3 separate regions of the Homo sapiens genome follow, and all the other regions are linked to region 1. Evidence: fine-mapped expression QTL. A gene starts in region 1. Each other region holds a variant in brackets. All regions are shown on one strand. Distances are from middle to middle. Region 1 holds the start of LINC02883 (long intergenic non-protein coding RNA 2883). Region 2 overlaps PDE8A (phosphodiesterase 8A). Region 3 has its middle 5.4 kb from the start of MIR548AP.

Region 1 (10,540 bases):
GTGATCTTGCTGTGAACATTCTCTCCTTCTCTCTCTTTCTCTCCCACTGGGCACCCCGTACTCCAGGCCCTTTAAGGCGCAGACTCCCAACCCTTCTTTCCCACCCGCCTCCAGCATGGGGGGGCTGCCGAATGCAAGGCAGGCATCCGGCTGCCGACAGCTTGTCTTCTCTTCAGGGTGTTGCTGGGGCCTAGCCACTGGGGTGCAGGGCAGGGTTCCAGTCCTGGCTCTGGGAAAGGCCGAGCTCATTAATCCACTGTGGGCTCCGTCACTGCTGCAGGAGGGACAGTACAGTACATTCTCTCCTGTCTTAAAGAAGTTGCTACAGATGGGAAATCCCAGAGCACAGGCCTGAGGATTTCTGCCAGCCTTGAGGGTTGGGCCTGGCTAAGCAAGTGCCCAGGACGGAGTCCGTCCGTCCAGGCATCAGCAGTCATTCGTTCCTGTGCCAGGCTGGGGGATAGAGCAGCATCCCACCCTTGATGGGGCAGGCTGAGCCTAGTGGGGCAGGCCCTACACCAACAACCCACAGGATGCACGTTGGCCAAGACCTGCTGCACACAGGAAGTGCAGGGCGGCCGCTGACCCTTGTCCACTCTGCAAGCTGGAGGATTAGCCCATTTCACAGTTGAGGCCAGGCCCCAGGGAGCACCTGCCAAAAATTAAAGGGACCCAGCCTGAGAGGGAACAAAGGGACCCAGCCTGAGAGGGAACACAGGAGCCTGGCCCCGAGGCTCCCCAACCCCTGTGCCTCTAGCTGTCATCTGTATTCCTTTCAGCAACTCAGGGTGCCTTGGGGGACACCCCCAGGTAGGTAGCGTGGCTGTTTAGTTCCAGGTAGCAGTGAGGCCTTGCCCTGAAGGGACCACATGTCAGCATGTGGCGTGCTGGGATGGGGCCAAGACCGGGCAGCCAGGCCCCAGAGGTTCGGGTTTGCAGTCTTAGAGCATCTCAGGATGGTTAGGGCCCCTGTGACCCCAGCTTCTCACTTGTGAGGAGCTTGAAGGGATTTGGGGGCCTTCTCAGTCGCCGAACCCAGCCTCTGTATCTGGAAACAACTTGAGCACGTGGGGAGGGCAGAATTCCTGCAAAGCAGCCTTCAGAGAACAGACGGCCCAGCACTGTGTGGGATGGAGAGGTGTACCCCACTTAAAGGGGACAGCCGTGGAGCCTCAGTGCTGGCTTCAGTGTTTAATTGAAATGTAACTAAGGTTACTTAATACACACAAGCATACAACTAGAAAGCCCCTTATGTTCTTGTTCTTACACAACTAAAACTAACACGTACAGCTTAAATACAACCAAAGCCAAAAACCGCGGACAGCGTCACCATTAATCACTGCTTTGCTGAGGCTCCTTGCCTTATGGAGTGCATGAACACTCAGGGTTGCTAGAGTGCTCCGCCTGCCTGTGCCCGCCTGTGCGAGAGGGCTCACCTTTTCCTTTCAGGGCCTCGGAGTGGTATGTGAGAGGGAACTTACTCTATTAGGGGAATTGGCTCACTTGGTGATAGAGGCTGAGAAGTCCCATGATAGGCTGCAAGCTGCAGAACCAGGAGAGCTGGGGACAGACCTCAGCCCAAGGACAAAGAGCCAAGAGCCTGGGGTGGGGGTGGGGTGGTGGGCAGCAAGTCCCAGAGGCCAGAGAACCTGGAGCTCTGATGCCCGATGGCAGGAAAAGAGCAACCTAGCTCCAGAAGAAAGAAACCTGAGTCCCCATTTCCTTAGCTTTTTATTCCACCAGGGCCCCTGCCCATCTGATGGTGCTCACCTGCAACCACGGCTCTCACGCCGGTCACCTCTGGAAGCACAGACTCACTGGGGCGGCCTGGCCATTCGAATCAAGTACCAAGCCGCCTGGGTTTCCCTTCCAGCACTGAGAATACGTAATGTGTCCCCGGGCGTCTGGGTATCCCCGAATCCAATCAAGTTGACACCTGAGTCACCTGCCACTCAGTGGGGAAAGCAGGCCTGGGGTGCCTGAATCACCAGACTGCGCTGCCGGTGAATGGTGGATCTGGCGTTCTCACGCCCGAGCCTCATGGGCAGCTGTGTCATTGTCATTTTGTTCCAGATCAGGTCAGAACAGAACAATGTGGCCACTGATTGATTTTCTCTTCCTCTCCTCCCTCCACAGACCGCGGCCTTCAGTGTCACAGCGTGGCCTTGCTTGTCTGCCACAGCGGGAGCTAAGCCGGCCCTGGGCCAGCACTCCGAGAGGTGGAAGGGGCCCTGCCAGCTCTGGGGAGCAGCAGCCTTGGGCTGTTCTGAGCTTTAGGCAAGAGAAGAGAAGCATCTCTTGCATCCGTGCCCCTGGGGGCCTCTTCAGCTTTGCAGTGGTTTGTGGGAAGACATACCTCCCAGAGGGGCATGGACTGCCACCAGGACTGACCCTGGCGTCGGGGAGAAGGACACTTGCAGAGCCTTGAGATCACCTGTTTGGCAGGTCCTGGACTGGGGCCGGGCAGGCAGGGGCAGGGAGGCGCCCCGGGTGGGCTTTGGGGCTGCGGCACTGCCACACATCCTTTCCCTCCTGGCCTGCCCTGCTGGGGCTCTACTGCCATCTATAGATGGTGTCCTGGGCCTGGGAAACTAGGTTCCCAGGGGTTGAGACCAGAAAGGTGACCAAGACAGATTTTTTAAGGTGCAGAAACTGCAGGGGGGCCTCAGTGACATCCATGAGGCCTTATTAGCAAAGGACACCCAGACCTCCAAGGTTTGTGGGCCCCTTCCACAAAGCTGTAAGTCCCAGCCCACCTACTCAGGGCCTTGCTCAGTGCTGTGGCCCGGTGGGGACACAGTTGCTCGTGGCCACTCAGTGGAGCTGGGCCTGCAGCAGACTCAAGGCTCCGAGTGCCCTGGGGGTCACCCCTCCCCTCCCCTCCTCAGAGCCCACCCTGAGAGGCAGCAGTGACCCCCATGGCACACACCTGCCAACAGCACTGGGGGCTTCTCCCCAGGAGACCACGCTGCCCTCCAAGACCAGGAGCAGCTGTGAGCTGGAGACAGCAGAGGGACCCCAGGGTGTCCCCTGCAGATCCCACCAGGGCCGCATCCATCTCAGTGTGGAGGACAGTGACGGGACCCTCACCATCCTCTTGCGTTTTGGCCCCCATTTGCTCCCTGAGCTCCAAGATAAGAATGGCCCCGAGAGAACTGCTGAACATTTGTTCATTGCTGTCACCTCCTGAGTCACTGGGGTCCCTCACCAGCACCTCCCTGACACCTGGGCTATGGAGAGGTTGGCGCCTGTCAGTGACCATCCTAATGCCTCTCGCTCACTCCCAAGCCACCATTTGAGAGGGAGGGGTGTTGGTGCCCTGACAGGGACTGGGCAGGGTGTCCAAACTTGGGGCTTCCCAGGCACCTGCAGTGTGAACACTGCTTGGCTGGCTCAAGATTAGGGCCGCGGAGGGGGCTGTGCACATACCAGTTACTTAAGCAGCCACGAGTGTCCCCCATGCCTTGGTGCGGGTCCTGGAGGCCTCTTGGGGGTGGGACCTTTGGGCAGGGTTTGCCCACTGACACGCCCGCCATGGGGCACTGGCTGCATGGGGCTCCTTGGACCCTGTAGACCCAGCAGACCCCGCCTGTGTCAGGCCAGCTGCCCGAAGGCACTTGGCTGTGGTCCCAGGGGACGGCTCTGCTGGCACACTCAGGAGCCTGGCCGCGGGGACTGCAGGGAGGGTGCCTGGACCCGTGGGGTTGCTTCATTGAGATAAAGCACACTTATCACATAGCACAAAGGACGTGCCATGGTGCTTTCCCCAAAAGTTGTGTTGCTTTTATCAGTTTTCTAACTTAATAAAAAGAGTTGAGAAAATTCTTTGCCTGCCTTGTGTGCTGGGATCAGTCTTGGAGACATTGCTGGTGGCTGACTTTGGTCTTGTCCCACCAGCCAAGGCTCAAGGCCTGCCTGCTGGCATCTGCCCCTCTCATGAGCTGGGAAGGGGGAACCCACCCAGATGAGAGGTCTCCCCATTCCTGTGCCTCCTGAAGTTGCTTTAGAAGCCATGAAGTTGATTCCGTGGAGAGTCCTGATCCTGTCTGCCCCTCCTGAGAGTGATTCTCTCCTGGAAACTCTGGTAAATAGAAGTTGGGAATGTAATTCCATCCATTCGAAAAGGCAGAACCTCCAGTTGATGCTCCTTTGTCTGAAAATAACCCGAGCGCCATTCAGAGGGGCGAAATGGCTCCAGGAGGCAGCTTCACGGCCGCAGCGCCAGCTCACGGCACCGTTGCGCCCACTGGTTGCACCGTGGGCCCTGGGCTACCTGCCCTCCTTGTGCGTTTTCATAGTCACCATGAACCTCATGAGCTCAAGCGTATGCTCACGGGTAAACATCGTGTTCTGTGTTTTGTGATCTCACCTTCAGGCGCCCCTCAGACAGCGGGCAGCCCGAGAAGGTCATGCCGTGGCGCAGCCTGCGTGCAGGGTGGCTCTGCTGTGAACAGGAACCCGGAGGTGCCCCAGCACGGTGGCTCTCAGCAGTGGCTTCCGTGGTGCTCAGTGGTGTGCTGGCCCACAAAATCCAAATAGCGCCTTCACAGTGTAAGAAGTGCTTCTGATGCTGGCGTAGGGGCATGACGCCAGATTCCTTAGAAAATGGAATGATCTTGAGCGGGTGTGTCTCAGAGGTGAGTATGGTGCGTGTAGAAGAGCCAAGAGCACAGAGGGCCTCGTCCCTCCCCCTGCCCAGAGGTGCAGCCCTGGGAGGGGCATCCTGGGACTCTGCCTCGCACTGTCTGCTCCTGTAGCAGTGGTGGGGACCACAGGTGAACGCTACCACTTCCACACAGGCCTGAGCGCTTCACTCTGGGCATCCAAAGCCAGGAGTTGGCTCCAGCTAGAGTCCAGACAGCAGCAGAGGTGAAGTTCCCTGTCACACAGTCACAGGGTGAGTGTGAGCCAGCTGTGGCCCACAGGGCTCCAACTCTCTCCCCCTCTCTCCCTCTCTCTCCAACTCCCACCCCCTCTCTCCCTGCCCTGCCGTCTTCCATGCAAGGCAGCGGTTTCCTGGTCCACCCTGGCCTTCGCAGCCCCGGCCATCCCATCTGCATTCCAGCCAGTGGAAAGGGGAGGAGAGAAAGTGATGGGCAAGCCTGTTTTAAGGGCATGTCCCAGAAGTTGCACCATAACTTCTCCATTTTCCCAACAGCTAGAACTCAGTCACATCCACGCCTGACTGCGAGCGGGACTGGAAAGTGCCCCGAGGAAACTCCAGGACTCCAACGCCAAGTAAAGGGAGCGTAGATATTAGACAGGTAGCAGCCTCTTCCTCTACATGCTGGGTCAGGGGTTGGAAGGAACCTGGGCACACCGCCCTGCCTCCCGCTTCTCTGGGAGCATGCAGAGCCGTCATCTGCCAAGATCCTGGCTCTTGTCAAACCCTTCTTGTCAAGCAGTTGTCAAGCCCACTGGCCAGTGCTTTGCATAACTACCTCCTTTAACCCTCACAGTGACCCCCGGAGGTAGACATTCTTGTCCTCTTCTTGCTGATGAAGAAATGGGTCCACAGGTCACAGTAACTTGCCCAATGTCTCATGCTGGAAAGAGGAGGAGGAGGAGGAGGAAAAAACACGGTTGCAACTGACAGAATGTGGATTTGGAGCTAGGCCCACCTGAGTTTGGGTTCAAGCTCTCACGTGTGGCTCTCATGTATGTGCAAGCTTGGTTAAACCACTTGATTCTCTGATACAGACTTAATGATAGTAGGGTTAAAAGTTGAGGTCAAATTCTATAAAGCACTAAACACCAGGACCAATGCCCAGATAGCCCTTTACAGGGGGAGAATGGCCGCCACATTACAGCAGTGGAACTGGGATTTGAAACCAAGCCATATGCTACATTGTGGGGGCTGGGGGCTGGGAGCAGTGTTGCTTCCAGTCATTGCCCAGCAGGCCTAGCTCCATGTTCCTTGGCCTCCCAGGGGTCAGACTGAGTCTGGGATGGGGCTTGGGGAAGGGAGAAGGCGCCTTCCCCATCAGTGATGGGGCAAGGTCTCCCTGGAAACCTCGGTCCCAAGATGGCCAGTGGAGCTTTCCTGGGTTGTGCCTGATGCAGGAAAGAAAACGGGCCATCTTGGAGGCTTTGGCATCCTGAGAGCCTGCCTGGGGGGACTGTCAAGTTGCCAAGGGCAAGGAGAGGGTAGCCAACTGCCTCCTCCACCTGGCTGCTCAGCCAGGTCTCCCTGCCTTCAAAGGACATTTCTTTGGTCAGGAATTGACAAGAATGAGCCCAGAGTCATCCACCCCAAGGGTGTGTGGCAACCATCCCTTGCTCAACACCGAAGGCTGTAGAATCATAGTGGGGAAAGAAGCAACTTCTTCAGAAGCAGTTGTCTAATGAGCACAGCTTGGAAAGAGCCTTGGTTCTTCTGGATCATCACTGGGGGGATATTTCGCAGAGCAAGAAACTTGCATGCCCCGTCCATCATGTCCCAGCCCCGGCCCCAGGCCCAGCCCCGATGGATCTGCCCGGCCTCTCTCCTTCAGGAGGTGGGAATGGTCTCTTCCAACTTGAAGAGGCCATGAAGGTGATCGGCCCCCCAGCTGCTCTTCTTCCCTCAGGCCCAACCCTACCTGACCTGCAGCTTGGCCCGCCCATGGCACCTGCAGAGGTTCAGGCCCTGCCCAGGGAGCCAGGGTGATTTGGGTGAATTTCCCAGAACGGGCACAGTATTGTCCTGCATCTTCCCTTGCCTTGTTGGGCTTTGGGATGTGGCTCTGCCTCATTAAAGGTCAAGGAAAAGCCTAGAATAGGCCGGAGGCTTCTTAACTTGGGATTTGGGATCAAATTCAGGGGGTCCATGCACTTGGGTGGGAGAAGAATGACACCTTTGTTTTCACTAACCTCTGACTGAGGTTAGTGATCAAGTGATCCGCCCACCTCGGCCTCCCAAAGTGCTGGGATTACAGGTGAGAGCCACCTTGCCTAGCCCCAGTCACTGTTGAGGTCACCATTTTAAAGCTGAGGAAACATGCTCAGCATGGCAGCAGAAGCTCTGGCAGTTTCTGTGTGTCTGGCCCCAGCTGCCCAGGCCCCCTGAACCTGAGGGGCCTTGCTCTGGCCCTGGGGTTGGCCTGGGTTTGGCACCTGGCGCTCGGGCCCCTGAGGGCTTGCAGTAGGGGAGCAGTGGCTTTTTTGAGTTGAATTTAGTAGGGCTGGACTCCTTTCCTGTCCTTTCTGCAGGTAAAGGAGATGAGCAGCGTTGCTCTGGTACGCAGAGAAGCTTCCAGACACTCCTGGGTTGCACGATAGATTAAGTAATTCTACTGATGGGCACCAGCTCCATGCCAGGACCCAGGGCTCCAAAGCCATTTCCAGGTAGACTCATCACAGCTTCTCCACTCAGCTTGCAGGGATGGTGGGGAACCAGGGAGGATGGGAGCAAGAGACACATCCTGCCAAGCCCACCCTGTGGTGGCTCTACCAGCGTCGGGACCGCAGAGGGAACAGGATGGCACAGTCTCATCCTGACACGTGCATGCAGGATAAATGCAGGCTCTGAGAGCGAGTGCCACGGATGACTCCTCCATGGCCGCACTTTCTTCACATTGGCTCCTGTGAGCTTCCTCAACGCTTTCGAAGCTGGCCCCGCTTCTGTCCACTCTGCAGAGTGAACGTTGAGGTACTCTGTGTCTCTCATCTGTACAACCCTAACTAGGGCTTCATCCAAGACTGTCGAGGAGCAGGTCCTGTCTCTCCCTCTCTCCATCTCCCCACTTCCCATGGAAAATAGTGAGATTTTTAAAATGGGAGTTGAGGCCATACCGAAAAGCCAGCACTGTTAAATGCAGCTGTGACATTTGCCTGAGAGAGGTGGCCGGGGTGTGGGGGGGCGGGGTTTCAGCTCCCAGTCTGCCCTCCAAGCTGGTGTTGCCAGCTGTGGCTGCCTTTCCTGTAGGCCTGCGAGGTCCCTGCCATGCCTGTCTCCTCCTCCCAGCAGTAGTGTGAGCTCTGCTCCGGGATCAAGGCCAGATCTTTGCAGCCCATGTGCTTGGCTCCCTCAGCTGAGCCTCAGGACGTGGGTCCTCAGTTTGTGCTGTGCAGCGTGAGGGGCCACACTGCAGTCAAGCCAGCTGGGTGCAAACAGCAGCTTTTCTTCTACTTGGTGGCCCTCCTTGGGAAGGTCCCTCTGCTCCTGTAACTTCATTTCCTCATTGATAACAAAGAAAAAAACAGATCATATTGCCTGTTGTAAGGATTGAACTAAATCGGGTAAAGAGGCTACTAGATTTCTGTCAATGATGTCCATTTCCTTTGCCCCATATACGTTTCCAACTTAAGAGAGAGAGTGTGTGTGTGTGAAAATTAACTAGAAAGAAAGTATTCCAGCTTTCTGGGGAGTTGAAGGCAATTTCAGTAAAAATGTATGTTTCTGGCCGGGCACGGTGGCTCATACCTGTAATCCCAGCAGTTTGGGAGGCTAAAGCAAGTGGATCACTGGAGGTCAGGAGTTCGAGACCAGCCTGGCCAACATGGTGAAACCCCCGTGGTGGCAGGCGCTTGTATTCCCAGCTACTCAGGAGGCTGAGGCAGGAGAATCGCTTGAACCCTGGAGGCAGAGGTTGTAGTAAGCCGAGATTGCACCACTGCCCCTCCAGCCAGGGTGACAGAGTTTGACTCTGTCTCAAAACAATAAACAACAACAAAAAGTTTCCCTTTTAGCTGTGGCTGCCAGGAAGCCCAGAGCCCACCAGGAGGTTCCTCACAGAGGCGGGTCGTCCCTCCTGTTGGCACAAGTGCTTTGTCCTCCTTCCATGGCTTGGAATTGTATGAGCCACCCCAGAGAAATGGTTACTGCAATCACAGGGTTCAAAGGACCTTAACTTCTGCTTGGAAAGCGTGCAGAGTCTTAAAAAACTTTGTGACTTCCTGATTTTCAGACTTTTCTCTTCAGGAGGCTGATCACCTCCAGGAAGATTGATTTCCTGTGTTGTTGGTGGGGACAGTCACCCCCAGGTCCAAGCCTCAGTGTGATGACTGAAAGAAGAGTGTTCTGGTCGGGTGCTTTGCTCAGTGCATGCTGAGCCCGGAGGGTCAGGCCATGGCTTAGCAGATCTTCCCCCGGCGACCTAGAATGTCACTGGGCATGAGCTGCGTTTGTCCAGGCTTGTCTGAGCTGGAGTCAGGGCTAGTGGGTGAGGAGATGTTTCTCTCGCTTCCCAGGTAAAAGCCAGGGCTTCAAATGCTTGTGGTGATGGAGAAAGAGCAGGAAGACACCAGGGCCACCTTCCTTGGGGGGAAGTAGTCTGGCACACAGGGCTTCCACCACAGAGAGGAGCTTTGTGATGGGGCCCCAGGCTGGGCAAGTCCTGAGGAACTCCTCTGGGATCTGGGGATGCGCTTTCCCAGAACCGTGCCTCTGCCCATGCCTGTTCCCCCCTTGCTTCCTCAATCACCCTTCTTTCATTTCACAAAAGAAAGTTATCTCTCGCCCCTCCTGAAACTCATTATGGTGCACTGCTCAGGGTGTAAAAACATCTGGGGCACCAAATGGACGTGTTAAGGTTGGGCAGCATGAGGGAAAGGTGGATTGCAAAGCATAGGGTTGTTAAACAGGGCAGTGCCTTTTGGAATTCAATTGACAAGCACATGACAAGATTCCATATCTTTGTGTGTCCATCTGCTCACCTGCCTGTCCATCCACCCATGCATCCACCCATCTACCCACCCATCCACTCACCCATCCACCTGCCCATGCACCCACTCATTAACCTACCCACCATTCATTCATCCACCCATCCACCCATCCACTTGTCCATCCATCCATCCATCCATCCCATCTACTCATTCATCTTACCTCCCTCCCTCCCCATTATTAAGTCATAATTCAGAAGTGAGATAGTTGTCACTAAAAATTTTTAGTTGTCAACTAAATAACATTTTAATTTAAATTTAAAAGCAATCAAACTTTTTTAATGGAAATTGAATTCTGAATTGGCCAATCAGTTTGCCAAGAAGTACTGGCTTTGCTAATGAGGTCACATGGTGGGTATTTTCTGTAAGTTGAACAACTTAAGGCTTTAGCCCTAAATATATTTGAAGCATGAAAATAATGCCCCAGATTATATACTTTGTAGCAGTTACACTTGTGATACCGTTTGAGAGCTAGACATAAGCCATGTGAAGGGTATATGGTTGTTCGCATTTGTTGTAGGAGGACACATGAACCAAAAGTGCCGATCAGTGGCTGTGTCTTCCCTCCAGAAGCCAGCACAGAGCTTGGGCGTGGGACTTAGCTGGATTTCCTCTCTGCCTTTTGGGGTGAGATACGGCTGATGCCTTGATGTGGAGGAGGAAGCAGCGGCATCGAGCCCATGCCCACAGTTGGCCTGAGGCCCACTCAGCACCTGGTGCCAACCCAGGGCAGTGAGAGGAGGTAGGAATTCCAGGAATGAGCCGGCTGGCCCTGGGCTGGTTCCAACAGGCTCCCTGCCCTGGCAGAGGCTCCAAATCTGAGCTTCCTTCCAGAGGAGGCCAGGCCAGGTGCAGCGATGGGGTTGGGAGTCTAAGGTAGGGACAGGAAGGGGTGACC
Region 2 (5,000 bases), 760 kb after region 1:
AATACCACCTCTCACAGTCAGATTGATGAATGCACCACAAAGCACTCTCACATGCTCCTTATGAAATAAAAATCTGACCACAAGGCAGGGTAAAGTAGTGCATGCCTATAATCCCAGCCACTCAGGGATTTTTTAATTACAAAATTTCATCACATTTTCCTGGAGGGCAATTTAACAATATTTATCGTGAGCTTTTAAAAGTTAATCGTGTAATATTATGAACTACTGAGACATGAAACATAGATGAATCCCAAAAACATAACGCTTAGGGAAAGAAGTCTTATATAAAAGTACATACACTGGGCGTGGTAGCTCACACCTGTAATCCCAACACTTTGGGAAGCTGAGGCAGGAGGACTGCTTGAGCCCAGGAGTTTGAGACCAGCCTGAGCAATATAATGAGACCCTGTCTCTACAAAAAAAATTTTTTTAATTAGCCAGGAGTGGTGGTGCGTACCTGTAGTCCCAGCTACCCAGGAGGTTGAGGTGGGAGGAGGATCAGTTGAGCCAGGGAAGTCAAGGCTGCAGTTAACTATGATCACAGCACTGCACTCCAGTCTAGGCAACAGAGGGAGACCCTGCCTCAGAAAAAAAAAAAAAGGTACATACTGTGTAACTCCACTTATATTAAAATTAGAACAGGCAAAACTAATCTGTGGTAAGAAAAAAATCAGAAGGGTGGTTGCAAGAAGAGATTGTCCAATAAGGAGCATAATGAAACTTTCTGGAATGAAAATAATGTTCTATAACTTCATAGAGGTTTGGATTACGCAGATATATGTATGCGTTTGTCAAAACTCAGCAAATATACACTAAATATTTGTGCATTTCACTGTGTGTAAATGTTGCTTCAAAAGGAAAAAACCTAAGCAAATATCAAATTCATGCTGAAATATTTAAGGGGAAGTATAGTATACTAACATTTACAATTGCTTTTTCTCTCTTTTTTTTTTTTGAGACAGAGTTTCGCCCTTGTTGCCCAGGCTGGAGTGCAATGGTGTGATCTCAGCTCACTGCAGCCTCTGCCTCCTGGGTTCAAGCGATTCTCCTGCCTCAGCCTCTAGTAGCTAGGATTATAGGCACCTGCCACCATGCCCAGCTAATTTTTTGTATTTTTAGTAGAGACAGGGTTTCACCATGTTGGTCAGGTCTTGAACTCCTGACCTCAGGTGATCCACCTGCCTCAGCCTCCCAAAGTGCTGGGATTACAGGCGTGAGCCACCGCTCCCGTCCTCACTTGCAATTACTTTAAAATATATCAAAGAAAAAGGAGTATGATAGGTAGAAGAATGGATACATGGATATATGTGATAAAGCAAGTACAGTAAAATGCTAATGTAAAATACAGGCATTGGGTACACAGGGGTACCCTGTGAAAAATCCTTCAAGATTGCTGTATTTTGAGATTTTTCATAAAATGTTAAAAATACTAAAAAACAGTAAACAGCCACAAGGCAGCCTTCTGGAATGCTGGAAATGTTCTGTCTTGATTTGGCTGGTGATTACATGGGAGCATGAGGAAAATTCATCAAGCTGTACACTTAGGGATTTTGTACACCTTGGCTGATTACATTTATAACTCAATAAAAAGTGTTTTTAATACAGCAATCAGAATAGGACTTTAAAGTGAGTGTAATTAATATCCTCAAAGAGATAAGGAAGTATGCTGCAACCATAAAACATGAATAAGCAATTAAGAAAAAAGAGCAAACCATAGACTGAAGACAAAAACTCAAATTTAAAAACTCAGTGGGCTAAAGAGCTGAGTAGACCTTGAGGAATGAATTCGTGACTTAAAATATTGAGCTAAAAAATCCTCCCAGAAGATAGCACAGAGAGGGGAAGTAAAAGAAAAGTGAAGAGACACGGAGGACAGATCAAGATGCGTCTCAATCTATCTTTTGGAGGGAGCTGCAGAAGAGAAAATGAGAAAACTTAAGGGGACAACATTTAAATAAATAATAGTTAAATGTTTCCTAGAACTAAAAAACAAAACTGCTTAAAAAATATTTTTGTTTTTTGCTTTTTAAGAGACAGGGTCTCACTCTGTCACCCAGGTTGGAGTGCAGTGGCACAATCATAGCTCACTGCAACCTCAAACTCCCAGCCTCAAGCAATCCTCCCACCTCAGTCTAAGTAGCTGGGATTACAGGTGTGCACCACCATGCCCAGCTAATTTATTTATTATTATTTTTTTTTATAGAGAATGGGGGTCTTACTATGTTTCCCAAGCTGTTCTCAAACTCCTGGCCTCACGTGATTCTCCCATCTTGTCCTCCCAAAAGTGCTGGGATTTACAGGCATGAGCCACTACGCCCAGCCCAAAAAAGTTTTTAATTATAGTTATTTAAAGCAATCTACATGGATGGAAGGAAACACACCACCATTTTAAGAGACATTATCTCCTGACTGTGCAATTTAAGTGATTGTACAATTTAAGTGATCCTTGTTCTTTTTTTTTTTTTTTTTTTTTTTGAGATGGAGTCTCG[C/T]TCTGTCGCCCAGGCTGGACTGCAGTGGCGCGATTTCGGCTCACTACAAACTCTGCCTCCTGGGTTCATGCCATTCTCCTGCCTCAGCCTCCCAAGTAGCTGGGACTACAGGCACCTGCCACCACACCCGGCTAATTTTTTGTATTTTTAGAAGAGACGGGGTTTCACCGTGTTAGCCAGGATGGTCTTGATCTCCTGACCTTGTGATCCGCCCGCCTTGGCCTCCCAAAGTGCTGGGATTACAGGCATGAGCCACCACGCCCAGCCGATCCTTGTTCTTTTCTATATGTTTCAAGTTTTCTACAATGAATATGACTTTTACAATCAGGAAAAGTAAAAGTTTATTTTTATAAGATGAACTCAGAACCAAAAGACAAGAAAGGTTTTTTAAAAACTCCCTAAATTCGCTTTCCTGTGACTTCTCCCTTATGCTATTACAGTGAACCTGTTTCTGTAAGTGGTCACCACAAACTTGAACAAGTCATTCAATCTCTGAATTTCTGCTTCTTTAGGCCTTAAACAGGGAAAATAAAATCCCTCCTTTCCACCTCCCCATGGTTTGGGGAACATCAAATGAGATGAGGTACAAAAATAGCATTTGGTAAACCATAAAGCACTGTACAAATTGTGGCATGTTATCACAGTCCTTCTAAGCTGGTAAACCCCAACCTCTGAGTCACCCTCCACTCTCCGCCCTTTCACTCACCAAGTCCAATTTGTCACTAGTCAGTTTTTCCTTCTCTCATTCCCTCCTCTCCCAAACTACTGCACTAAGTTAGTCATACCTGGTCATACCTTGTGCCTGAACCACTGCAATAGGTCCTGCATAGTGCCCCACCTCTAGCTGTCCCTCACCCCACCTACTGCAATTTTTGCCTGAAACCTAATCTTCATGAAACATGTTTATCCTTTGACTACCCCGCTGAAAATGAAATGCCTTTGGGAGTTCTCTGAGGTTTATAGGATGGACTTCAAACTCCTCAACCTGGCTTTTAGACCTCCCGTCCTATCTCTGGTCAGCCTCCTCATAATTGGAACATGCACCCAACCCCCGTACCCTTCCTTCCCCTTATCCAGAGATATATTTTCCACTTATCCACATCCTCCCAGTCTTTTAAGCCCAGGTCAAACCTCTCCCTCCTTTCCTCTTTCTATACCTTATGACCAATCCAGACCAAGCTCTTGCCTCCACAATCCATCCCCCAAGGTGCCATCATCACTTCCAGGTCAGAGACCTACCCCACCTTTCCAGAAAGGACTAATTGTTCCCTGAGAGCAGGGCCTGTTATCCTCCTACAGCCTCTATATTAGGCACTCAAATTAACATGCTAAACATTTAAGTCCTTAAAATAAACTTTATTTGCCTGAACTGATTTTATGGTAAGTTTTAACACCTATGTGTGTATTACTATATATTGTTTAGCTATTAATCTTTTTTTTGTTGTTAGAGATGGGGTCTTGCTATGTTGTCCAGGCTGATCTCAAACTCCTGGCCTCAAGTAATCCTCCTGCCTCGGCCTCCCAAAGTGCTGGGATTACAGGTGTGAGCCACCACTCCCAGCCTATCAATCTTTAAATAAAAAGAATCATAACTTACAGATTTTTTGATGGCTTCTTCTTTCTCTCCACTGAGATTTATCAAAGTTAATATCTAAAACTATAATCCATTTTTCACAGCTGTGAAGTATTCCTTTCTTTGAACATATCATAACTTTTTTATCCATTATGTTGTTAATGGACATTTGGGTTTTACAGGAAAGTTTGGAATTAAAAGTAATGCTGCTCTGAAAATTCTCGTACATGTTTCCAGTAAAGATATATAAGAGTTTCTAGAAGAGAAGCTGCTATGTCACAGGGTCACATATTCAACTCTACCTGGCAATGACAATGGGTTTTTCCCTAGTAGTTGAACTAATTTACACCTCTACTTAATGTTGAGCAGTTCCTCAAAATACTGCCAACCTTTTAAATGTCTGCCAATTTGATGAGTATAAAATGTTATTTCATTGTGGGTTTAATTTGCATTTCCCCAATGAGGTTGAAAACCTTTTCATATAGTTATTAGCTATTTGGTTTCCTCTTAGTGCTGTGCCTGTCCCAACCTTTTCCAATTTTTCAACTGGGCGGTTGTTTTCTTATTGACTTTTAGGACCTCTCTGAATACTAATCCTTTATTGGTACTATGCATTGCAAATGTCTTCTTCCAGTCTGCCGCTTTCCTTTTCACTCTCTTTTGATGAGAAGTTCTTTATTTTAACGTAGTTGAATTTATCAACCATTTCCTTTATGTAAATGCCTTGTGTAACTTGCTTAATCAGTCCTTCCCTACCCAGAGGTCATAATGTTTATATTTCCTTTTAATAAAAAAGTATTAAAATAAAAACTTTAAAAAGACAGCAATACAGTAAATGAACAACAAGCACACGGAAAAAGTACTCAAAATCATCAGCCATCAAGGAAATACAAATCAAAACCACAATGAGATACCACTACACACCCACCAGAATGGCT
Region 3 (10,540 bases), 73 kb before region 1:
CAGACACGTGCCACCACGCCTGGCTAAGTTTTTTAGTTTTTTTGTAGAAACACGGTTTCACCATGTTAGCCAGGCTGGTCTTGAACTCCTGACCTCAGGTAATCTGCCCGCCTTGGCCTCCCAAAGTGCTGGGATCACAGGCGTGAGCCACCGTGCCCAGCCAATATAGTTATTAGTTATTTCTTTTCTTTCTTTTTTTTTTTTGAGACAGAGTCTCACTCTGCTGCCCAGGCTGGAGTGCAGTGGCGTGATCTCAGCTGACTGCAACCTCTGCCTCCCGGGTTCAAGCAGTTCTTGTGCCTCTGCCTCAGCCTCCCGAGTAGCTGGGACTACAGGTGTGCACCACCACGCCCGGCTAATTTTTGTAATTTCAGTAAAGACAGAGTGTCACCATATTGGCCAGGCTGGTCTCGAACTCCTGACCTAGTGATCAGCCCACCTCTGCCTCCCAAAGTGCTGGGATTACAGATGTGAGCCACTGCATCCAGTGCAATATAGTTATTTCTTAAATTTATTTTTATAGTTATTCTTATGTCCCCATTTTACATTTCTCTTTTTATATATGGCTTTAATGAGCATAATACATTAATGTTTATAATTTATGAAAAAGTATCATCCTTGTAATTTCTACTTTGTGCATGGTTTTAAGGTACACCCTATATAAATCCAGTGCTAACTGTATAAACTATATGACTAAACAGATTTGCATGTAGTAGGGATGCATGATTTTTTTTTTTTTTTTTTTTTTAGAGAGAGTCTGGCTCTGTCACCCAGGCTGGAATGCAATGATGCGATCTCGACTAACTGCAACCTCCACCTCCAGGCTCAAGCGATTCTCCTGCCTCAGCCTCCTAAGTAGCTGAGATTACAGGCATGCGCCACCACACCTGACTAATTTTTGTATTTTTAATAGAGATGGGGTTTCACCATGTTGACCAGGCTGGTCTCCAACCCCTGACCTCAGGTGATTTCCCTTCCTCGGCCTCCCAAAATGCTGGGATTACAGGCATGAGCCACCACACCCGGCCTGGACAAGTTTTAAGACCTTCGAGGTGGAAGCTCAAGCTGCCTTTATGAGAGTCTTTTGGAGATTCTAGCAGTGAGTGAGGGCCTTCAAACACTGAACAAGCTACATTGGCCCAGACGTCAGCAGCACATCATTCTTCAGGTGGCCCCTTTTGTGGTGATAATGACAAGAAAACTGTGACTAGTGCACAGGTGGAAACCAGAACCAGAAAGGAAAAAGGGGTGGGCATTGTCTGGGGTTGCAACTGACAGAGTGGGTATGTGTGTGAGGCTCCCTCTGAGATCTCCCATGAATGAGTGAAGACCCTTGAAGGCTAATGTTCTTGTCTAGGGGGATGAGTGGCTCGGAACCTGCAATTTGGGCACAAGGGTAAGTGTGACTTCATTTTGCAATCACCACCAGATGGACAGATGAGATCCAGGGAATGGGGAAGTTTGGGGCTGGGAACTCACATGATGAGGCTGCTCAAGGCATCTGCAGAATAACCCTGAGGCTGTAGGTGTTGGGCTATTCCGAACTCCCTCTCTGGGAGGTTTTCATCCATGAAGGTAGGGCCTGAGAAAGGATACAAATGTGCAGAGCTGAGAGTTTGCAAAGCAAGGTTGAGTTCAGAAAAAATATCCTGGCCGGGCACAGTGGCTCATGCCTGTAATCCAGCACTTTGGGAGGCGAAGGCGGGCGAATCTCTTGAGCTCAGGAGTTCAAGACCACCCTGGGCAACATGGTGAAACCATGCCTCTACTAAAATACAAAAAATTAGCTGGGCATGGTGGTGCACGCCTGTAGTCCCAGCTACTCGGGAGGCTGAGGCATGAGAATCATTTGAGCCCTGCAGGTGGAGGCCGCGGTGAGCCGAGATCATGCCACTGCACTCCAGCCTGGGCAACAGAGAGAGATTCCATCTCAAAAACAAACAAGAAAGAAAGAAAAGAAAAGAAAAAATATCCCAGACAGACTCAATCCAAGTTCCTAGCCGTGTGGCCTTGGAGAAGTCACTCTCTGAGCCTCAGATGTTTCATCTGTAAGACAGAAATATTCTCTCTTCCTCAGGACAAACAAGGGGAGAGGTCTATTTATCCAGCAAAACCCTCCACCCTGCCACAACCCCCACCTCCCCCATAACCTTTCTCCAGGAAATGATATTCAAAAAACAAAGTCTTCCAGCTCCGACAAGGCCCCAGAGCAGAATCACCAGTTCACTGGACAATAACCTCAGTGACGTGATTTTTCCTCCCAGAACATATGGCAAGTGGGCCAGAGCTGGAGAAGTGGGAGCAGCCGCTGCAGAGGCCGGTCTTGAGAATGTCCTCATTTTGCAGCTGACCAACAGCTTCCCCTGGCATGTACAGGCAGGAGCAGCCCCTCTCCTTTCTAGCTGGGAGGAGAATGCCCACAGGCTTAGAGCAGCTATGCCAAAGCCCATCTTGGCCATTGGCAACACCCCACCCACCCACAGGGGTGCCAGAGGACTTCTCCCTGAGCACCAGGTCCAGGTGCCATGTGGCATTCTCTGGGTAGACACCGGCTCTCCCAGCCTCTCCGCCCACCTGCCCCTTCCCCATGAGGACACTGGCCACCCTCCTTCCCCTTCCTGTTCTGTCTTCCACTCCCTCTGGCTTCATAGACACCGCCAGGGCTTGTTCTCCTCCATCTCGGTCAGGCACTATGCCCTGAGGTTGGCACTAAATGGTGGGGGAGTCAGACCACCTCCAGAGCCCCTGCACGGTGGCCCAGAGTATGTGAACAAGGTGCTTTCCTGGAAGAACATCTCCCTTAAAAAGGTCACTCATACCAAAACTTGGGCATTCTTTTTACATTTTATAGAAAAGAAAAAGGATGACGGGCTTGGTGGCTTATGCCTATAATCCCAGTACATTGGGAAGCCGAGGCGGGCGGATCACTTGAGGTCAGGAGTTCGAGACCAGCCTGGCCAACATGGCAAAACCCCGTCTCTACTAAAAATATAAAAATTAGCCTGATATGGTAGTGCGTGCCTGTAATCTCAGCTACTCAGGAGGCTGAGGCAGGAGAATCACTTGAACATGGGAGGTGGAGGTTGCAGTGAACCAAAATCACATCCCTGGAAATCAAAAAAACAAAAAAAGAAAAGGAAAAGGAGGCACCATTCAATTCAGCGTGAATTTATCAAGCATCTCCTCCATGCCAGGAACTCTCTGGACACTAAGGATGCTGTAAGTGACATTCCCTGACCTCATGGAGCCCAAGGAGATTAAATGACCCCTATAACCTAAGGCAGTTTTTCAAATGTCTTCAAGCCTCCTGATGTGTACAAAAGGTAAAAACCCTGGTACCTCTGGTGGAAGAAGCCAGAGCGATCACTGTTTCTCACCCCAGGACTCCGGGAAGTTCTCAAATCACCATGCGGGGTCTCCTGCAAGATCTTGAAAAGTAATAACAGCTAGTGTGTATTAAACACTTCTTAGGGGCCAGGCACTCTTCTAAAAACATTAGCACCTGAACTCTCAGAACAAACCCATCATGTAGGAACTATGATCCCCATTTTACAGATGGAAAGGAGATCACAGAGAAGGAAGTCACTTGCCACAAGGGCTGACTCCAGGGCCCATGACTTGTGTTCTCACCTGGCCTAGCTGCTGCACAGAGCTCCTCACAAGCCGTGAAGAGCAGCGCCAGGAAGCCCCACCGCATCACCTCCATTCTGATGATGATGGTGGTGATGGTGGTGGCAGTGGTGATGAGGTAACTCTTAGTTCCTTTATTTCCTGCAGAGAATGGCTGGTTCCTCTAAATGGCTTGGTGATTGTTTTGTTTGTTGGGTGTTTTTGAGAAAGGGTCTGACTCTGTCACCCAGGCTGTAGTGCAGTGATGAAATCGCAACTCACTGCAGCCTTGATCTCCCAGGCTCCAGCAATCCTCCCACCTAAGCCTCCCAAGCAGCTAGGACAACAGGTGTGTGCCACCACACCCAGCTAATTTTTCTATTTTTTGTAGAGACACAGTTTCACTATGTTACCCAGGCTGGTGTCGAAATCCTGAGCTCACATAATCCTCCCGCCTCCCAAAGTGCTGGGATTACAGGCGTGAGACACCACGCCCAGCCTAATTTTTCTTAATGTACATTTTCATTTTACCAGTGCTATTGTAAGTGCTTTTTGCTGTAACACATTTCTAATACATTTTAAGCAAATGCGGCATTAATTTTGAAGGAATGATCCTTTCTTGTGAAGACCCTTATTCAGCCATTCCCAGGAGGGAGGAGGGACAAAGAGAGACTGAGAGACAGAGAGTGCAGGCGTTCGCAGACAGGAGACAGAATAAGAGAACATTTGCTAAAGAAATGACCCAGGCACTCAGTAAATGTTAGAAGACACGCGAGGGGCTTTTCCAGCGGTCAGTCCTGGCTGTGAATCTCAGTCCCACCCTGTGCCAGATGACATGTCGGACCAACTACATAAATCCTCCGAGCCTTGGTTACCTTGTCTGCAAAGCAAAAGATCTCATTGGGGTTTTCTCCCACATTAAAGGAAACAACCCCACTTTGCACAAAACCTGGAACAGAATAGGAATGCAGTGTGTGCCTTATTCAACCCCTTCTGGACCCTGAGTACAAGACTGAGAATGTCAGCAGAGGGCGCTGGCTGGTCTGGGTCCCTCAATCTGGGAAGCGTGCAGTGTGGATTCAGCGTGGATCCTCTGTCTTGTGGGTGGAGGGCTGAGGACTTTAAACCATGGTCAGATTCCCCCGCCTGTGGGCACTGTGCTGGGGACGGAAAACAGAGCTCTCTGAAGGTGCAATTACACGTCATTTGCATATCTTATAGAGAACAGATGCTCCTTTCCATCGGGAAACATTCCCATATGGTCTGGCCTTGTCGCAATTTCCAACAAGGGCTGGTTTTAAGTTTTGCAATTAAAGGTGTCCCTTGGCCACAGCCAGAAAACAAACTGAGTTTTCATTGAGCCCTGGAGGTGCCTTTGTTTTGCCTCTGACAAGAAGGAAGCCAGCCCTCTGGGCCCCAGGGCCCTGCCAGCTCTCCCTGAGGTCCCCAATTGAGGGAAGGGTTGGGGCCTTCCCTTTAAGGGTGGCTGGCAGTCCCAAAAAAAAGGCTGCGCTAGGGGGATTGGGAAGGGAATGGGAGGGAGATGAGATTAGAGGACAGGGCTAGGGCTGTCAGAATGAACTTCAGGAGACTTTTCCTCCAGCATCTCACATCCTCACTTTTCTCTACCCTAACCCTCTAGACCCCCATCTTCCATCTTTCCTCCTCTCTACCCTCAGGACACATACAGCCCCCAGGTCATAAACCCTCTTCAGATGAAACACACAGGTGGCATCATCGCTCTGCCAGCTGGCCAGGTCCTCCCTTGTGCGGCATCCTCAGGCCCCCCAGCAGCCCTGCATGATAAGGGGCTCTAGGCAGCCTCCACCCTCGGGTCCAGCCTTCTCCACTTGCCTGGCCCAGCTCTTGCCCCTCCAAGGCCTTCAGCTTGCTGTTCCTTTCCTATTCCATCCTTGCCTCACTACTACTTGAATCTGATCCATGCTTTTATCTCCCTGATCAAGTCTGATTTCCTCTCGGCCAGGACTCCCCCTGGCCCTCCCAGTAATGCATCCACAAGTAACAGCAGCAACCCTTGGCCCCATTCCCCTCAGCCCCTGGTGCTTTCCTGCCTCCTAGAAACTGTTCCCACAAACTGCCATCCTAGCCAGCTCTACCTCCCTGGAGAGAGCTGATCCTTGGGCATCCCATACATATGATTTTCCACCGGTGGCCATAGGAGGATGCACGTTCACCTCCTGTCCTGCTGCTCTGTCCTCTCTGGGCAACTTCTATGTCCCCAAGCTATCTCTTGTTTCAGAGAGTCCCCTCCCAAGTAGCATTCCAGGTCTCCCCTGAACTACTGTCCTCCATCATGTGTTTATCTCCAGTGTCCCAATCCATCAGGACCTCGCATGGGCTCTGAATCCATTAACTGGCTGTGTGACCTGGAAACCAACTTATCCTCTCTGAACCGCAGGTTCCTTAAATGTAACTTGGGAGTGCTAATGTCCAATCCTTTTTTTTTTTTTTTTGAGATAGAGTCTCACTGTCACCCAGGCTGGAGTGCAATGGCGCAATCTCGGCTCACTGCAACCTCCACCTCCTGGGTTTAAGTGATTCTACTGTGTCAGCCTCCTGAGTAGCTGGGATTACAGATGCACCACCGCGCCCAGCTAATTTTTATATTTTTAGTAGAGTCAGGGTTTCACCATGTTGGTCAGGCTGGTCTCAAACTCCTGACCTCAAGTGATCCGCCTGCCTCAGCCTCCCAAAGTGCTGGGATTACAGGCATCAGCCACCACTCCCAACCATGCCCACATCATTTGCTGCTGTGATGATGTCATGAGATGACAAACAGAAACATCTCCTTCCTCCTTCCTCAGTGGTGGTAACTCTCCAGGGTGGGGTGAGAGGACTAGGACAGACTCCCCACCGTCCCCACAAGTGACTGCCTCTGCCTCAGGCCAGATGACCCTGACTCAACCCTGCAAGTTGCAGGAAAGCTGAGCCTAGTCTCTCTCTCCAAGAACCTGGTCCCAAAGAGAAATAGTTCCTGCTGCCAGGGTTCCATGGCTTTCCACAGGTGACCTGTAAGGTCAACTATCTTGAGCCGATAGTATGAGCCGCCATACTATATGGTGGCTCATTTAGAGCCTGTAGCAGCTGGATGGAGACTGCCCACAAAGAACAGGTCAATTTGGTCCATCTTTGCCTTTAGTAGTTGCTTAACAGATGATTTTTGTGGACTTAAACCAACCACCCTGATCGGAACCACACCTTTGTTCCCTTTTCCTAGATGAAAAAAAATGGGATTCTTTGCTATGGCACCTACATGGAGGCCACCTGAGGGGCTCTGGCCAGGAATCCAGGTGTTGAGTCCTTCAGAGTTGTTACCTGGGAGCCACAACCATGAAGCATGTCTGTCCTTTTACAGGTCTCTTAAAACCACCTTCCAAACAGCCACTTCCAAAGTCATACAGCCATTAGGAGAGCTGACTGCACTGATTTTTACCCTTTGTGCTACTGATGTCAGAGGCACAGTAAGCAGATTAGAACAGGGGCGAGATGCTACCTTCTGGCACTTCCTGCCAAAATTTGCCTACAGCACATGGATGGCTGTTTAGAGGTAAGCTAAAAAATCTGGTGGAAAGTGCCTGGAGTCATTTGGGATTTTGAAAACATAAGTCGGCCATGTGTCACTGACACTGCTGGTTGCCTACTTAACATGCGTTTCTCACCCACCCTCCTTTCCTCTTTCGATTCAGAACAGCATCTGCCCTCCTGTGCTCAGCTTTGTGTTTCACAAGGGGTTGATCACAGCCCCAGCCCAAGGGCTGAATCCTCATAGGTCCAAGCCAATCATGGGTTCCCAAACCCTTTGTTGGTAATTGGTTTAGATAAGGGTATGTGACATTGTGACATAGATTTCTTTTTTCTTTTTTTTTTTTTTTTTTTTTGAGAC[G/A]GAGTCTTGCTCTGTCGCCCAGGCTGGAGTGCAGTGGCACAATCTTGGCTCACTGCAACCTCTGCCTCCCAGGTTCAAGCAATTCTCCTGCCTCAGCCTCCCGAGTAGCTGAGATTACAGGTGCCCATCACCACACCCGCCTAATTTTTGTATTTTTAGTAGAGATGGGGTTTCACCATATCGATCAGGCTAGTCTTGAACTCCTGACCTCGTGATCCGCCCGCCTCGGCCTCCCAAAGTGCTGGCATTACAGGCATGAGCCACTGCACCCGGCCTAATTTTCTGTCATTATAAGCCACCCAGTTTGTGGTAATTTGTTACAGCAGCCCCAGGAAACAAAAATACCCTCTGTCTCCAGCCTCTACCCTCTTTGTTGTGTTGGCTTCTCTTTTTCTTCTGGCTATGGACCAACCCCTGTACTCCCTAAACCACAAAGCTGCCAACAGCTTGCATATTTGACACCTGTCAATCAAGCTTCCAGAAAGAAAAACAGTACCCTCTGTTTTCCAAATCCAGTTCTCCATGAAATAACTTTGATTGGCCTAGCTTGACTTGCAAGCTAAATTTGGTCCAATCAACTGTGCCCAGTGGCAGACTGGCATTGAACCAAGATGGCAACTCCTAAAGTAGCCATATGGATGGGAACAGAAGATACAGGGAAATTTCTAGAGTAACAAGTGTCCGCTCCAGTTATCTTTAAATAGTTACTCCATAAACACTGGCTTCCCTGGACCATGTTAATCTTTTATATTTTCAGGTATATCTATCGATAAACAGTGAGGCAAAGATAAAGAAAAAATATGGATCTTAAAAAGCCAGATATCTCAGCTGATCAGTGAAAGTCTTTGAAAAGGATGTAATGGACACCAGTACTCTTAGAAGTAATAATGGCATAATTTATAAAGTAAATAATTTGATTGTCCCTACTCCAGCTGTCTGCGTGGAAAAGTGAATTGAGGGAATCCAGCCCCGTGCAAAAGGGCTAACAGGAGCAGCCAAATAGGGCCAGGTGCGGCAGCTTACGCCTGTAATCCCAGCACTTTGGGAGGCTGAGATGGGCAAATTACTTGAGGTCAGGAGTTCTAGACCAGCCTAGCCAACATGGTGAAAACCCATCTCTACTAAAAATACAAAAATTAGCTGGGCATGGTGGTGGGTGCCTGTAATCCCAGCTACTCGGGAGGCTGAGGCAGGAGAATCTCTCAAACCCAGGAGGCAGAGGGTGCAGTGAGCCGAGATTGCACCACTGCACTCCAGCCTGGGTATCAAAATGAGACTCTGTCTCAAAAAAAAAAAAAAAAAAAAAAAACACTCTGATAAAGAGCTGAATAGATACAAATAAATAACCCAAATATACTCTTGTTTGTCTTAGAGACAGTAAGCTAAATCTGATCAGAAATGACTGAAGCAAGTCCAGAGATGCCGACAGATTAGTACTTCTACACAGGCAGTTCTTGTGTGCTGAGGGATGAGATACTTGCAGCAACTTTGTGGCCATTCTCTTAGACCACTGAGTAATAGGCTGTGCTGATAACGACTCATAAAACCTTCAGACACAAATTTTGTAATTGCACCATTATTACAAATTGTATTGTCTGACATTCCAGGTTTCTTGTAAATAACTGATGTAAAGCCTCAATCATTAAAGGGGAGGTTTGAGATAGGATCAAAACTATCTTAGTTCTTTTTGAAAACGTCTCTTGCAGTCAAATTATTCCCCAGGAACGTTTCTGTACTATCAGCATGTTTTAAAAAAAAATCTAGATCACTTCTTTTTTTGAGAAAGGGTCTTGCTCTGTCATCCAGGCTGGAATGCAGTAGCGCAAACATGACTCACTGCAGCTTTGACCTCCCTGGGCTCAGGTGATCCCCCCACTTCAGCCTCTTGAGTAGCTGGGACTACAAGTACACACCACCTCGCCCGGCTAATTTTTCTATTTTTTGTAGAGATGGAGTTTTGCCTTGTCCTGAGCTCAAGGAATCAACCACCTCATCCTCCCAAAGTGCTGGGATTACAGGTGTGAGCCACTGCACCTGGCCATAAGTTCCCTCAGGGGTTTTTCTCAAGTTGCCTACAATAATCATAAATACAGCCTTTTCAGTGGCAGACTTATTCTATGGTCCATGATGGTTTACTGAAAACATAGGTTCCTTCCTGTCAATAACTTTCCATTATACTGTTATAATATAGCCAAGATAATATGGTAAAAATATGTTGACATGATAAATTTTTCCAATAAAATGCATCCTTTGCATGCAGACAATTCATACTTATTAGTAAATAAATTTCACTCTTTGGGCAGTTTCTGTCTAGGTCACCCCTTCAATACCAAGTTTAAGGCACAAGCTGATCTAGCATCACACAGGCAATAAACAAAAAACTATATTGTATCTTCTCTTCAACAGAGAATGAGGTAAGGCTCCCAGGATCCGCATGTCCTGTAAAGCTGACAAGGAGCATGTAGTGTGAGGGCACTTAGTGGGCAGTAGTCATTGAGCTCTTCAAGGATTCCCCAAGAGAACACAGGAGTTGGGTTGGAAGGGAAGACTCCCACAATTCCTAAAACAGTGCTGTAGTTCAAGGATAGTTTTATTCTTAGAAGAGTCCCTAGAAAGTCAAATGATAGCTTGTCGGAAGGATTTAAGGAACTAATAATCCACATGAAGTGCTTAGCACAGCACCCGATGTGTGATAAGCATTCAGTATATGTTAGCTAGTCTTGTGATTTGAAGTGGCGGTAGGATTTCTTAACATCCATGATAACTGTTGGGGCTTCCATCTTGGTATCTGTGCAGCTGCATTCTGTGAGTGACAGTGTTCTTGGGTGGAAGCAGCTGGTACCTAATGGCCATCTGGCACTCTGTGGCCAAGCACAACTCCAGCCCTATAGGGTGGAGCGATTACATCAATAAATAGTGGCTGCATTCACAAAATCCATGGGCCCTGTCTGGGAAGCCAAAAACCTGCTTGACAGCCTGTGCTCTTGTTACAGTAGGTAGCTAGCCAGCCATGAGCAGGGCAGGAGA

Evidence for each region. PIP is the estimated chance that this variant, and not a neighbour inherited with it, causes the effect.
Region 2: its variant is fine-mapped to the expression of LINC02883 in esophagus mucosa (GTEx, PIP 0.98).
Region 3: its variant is fine-mapped to the expression of LINC02883 in sun-exposed skin (GTEx, PIP above 0.99).

Annotation. Positions count from the first base shown.
Region 1 is chr15:85,752,608-85,763,147 of GRCh38, reverse strand. It overlaps LINC02883 (long intergenic non-protein coding RNA 2883), which reads left to right and starts at 4,423. Exons shown (of 6, transcript NR_120366.1): 1 at 4,423-4,637; 2 at 4,800-4,897; 3 at 5,159-5,264; 4 at 7,192-7,326; 5 at 7,493-7,630; 6 at 7,907-8,207. It overlaps KLHL25 (kelch like family member 25), which reads left to right. Exons shown (of 3, transcript NM_022480.4): 3 at 2,137-3,822. RefSeq lists enhancers at 495-1,228, 2,045-2,546.
Region 2 is chr15:84,990,918-84,995,917 of GRCh38, reverse strand. The region is part of intron 1 of PDE8A (phosphodiesterase 8A); the gene reads right to left. Among named protein-coding and RNA genes, the nearest start is that of PDE8A, 12 kb to the right of the region's middle. RefSeq lists a silencer at 3,026-3,320. The variant C/T (reference allele first, on the strand shown) is at 2,490.
Region 3 is chr15:85,825,805-85,836,344 of GRCh38, reverse strand. No RefSeq gene overlaps it. Among named protein-coding and RNA genes, the nearest start is that of MIR548AP, 5.4 kb to the right of the region's middle. The variant G/A (reference allele first, on the strand shown) is at 7,514.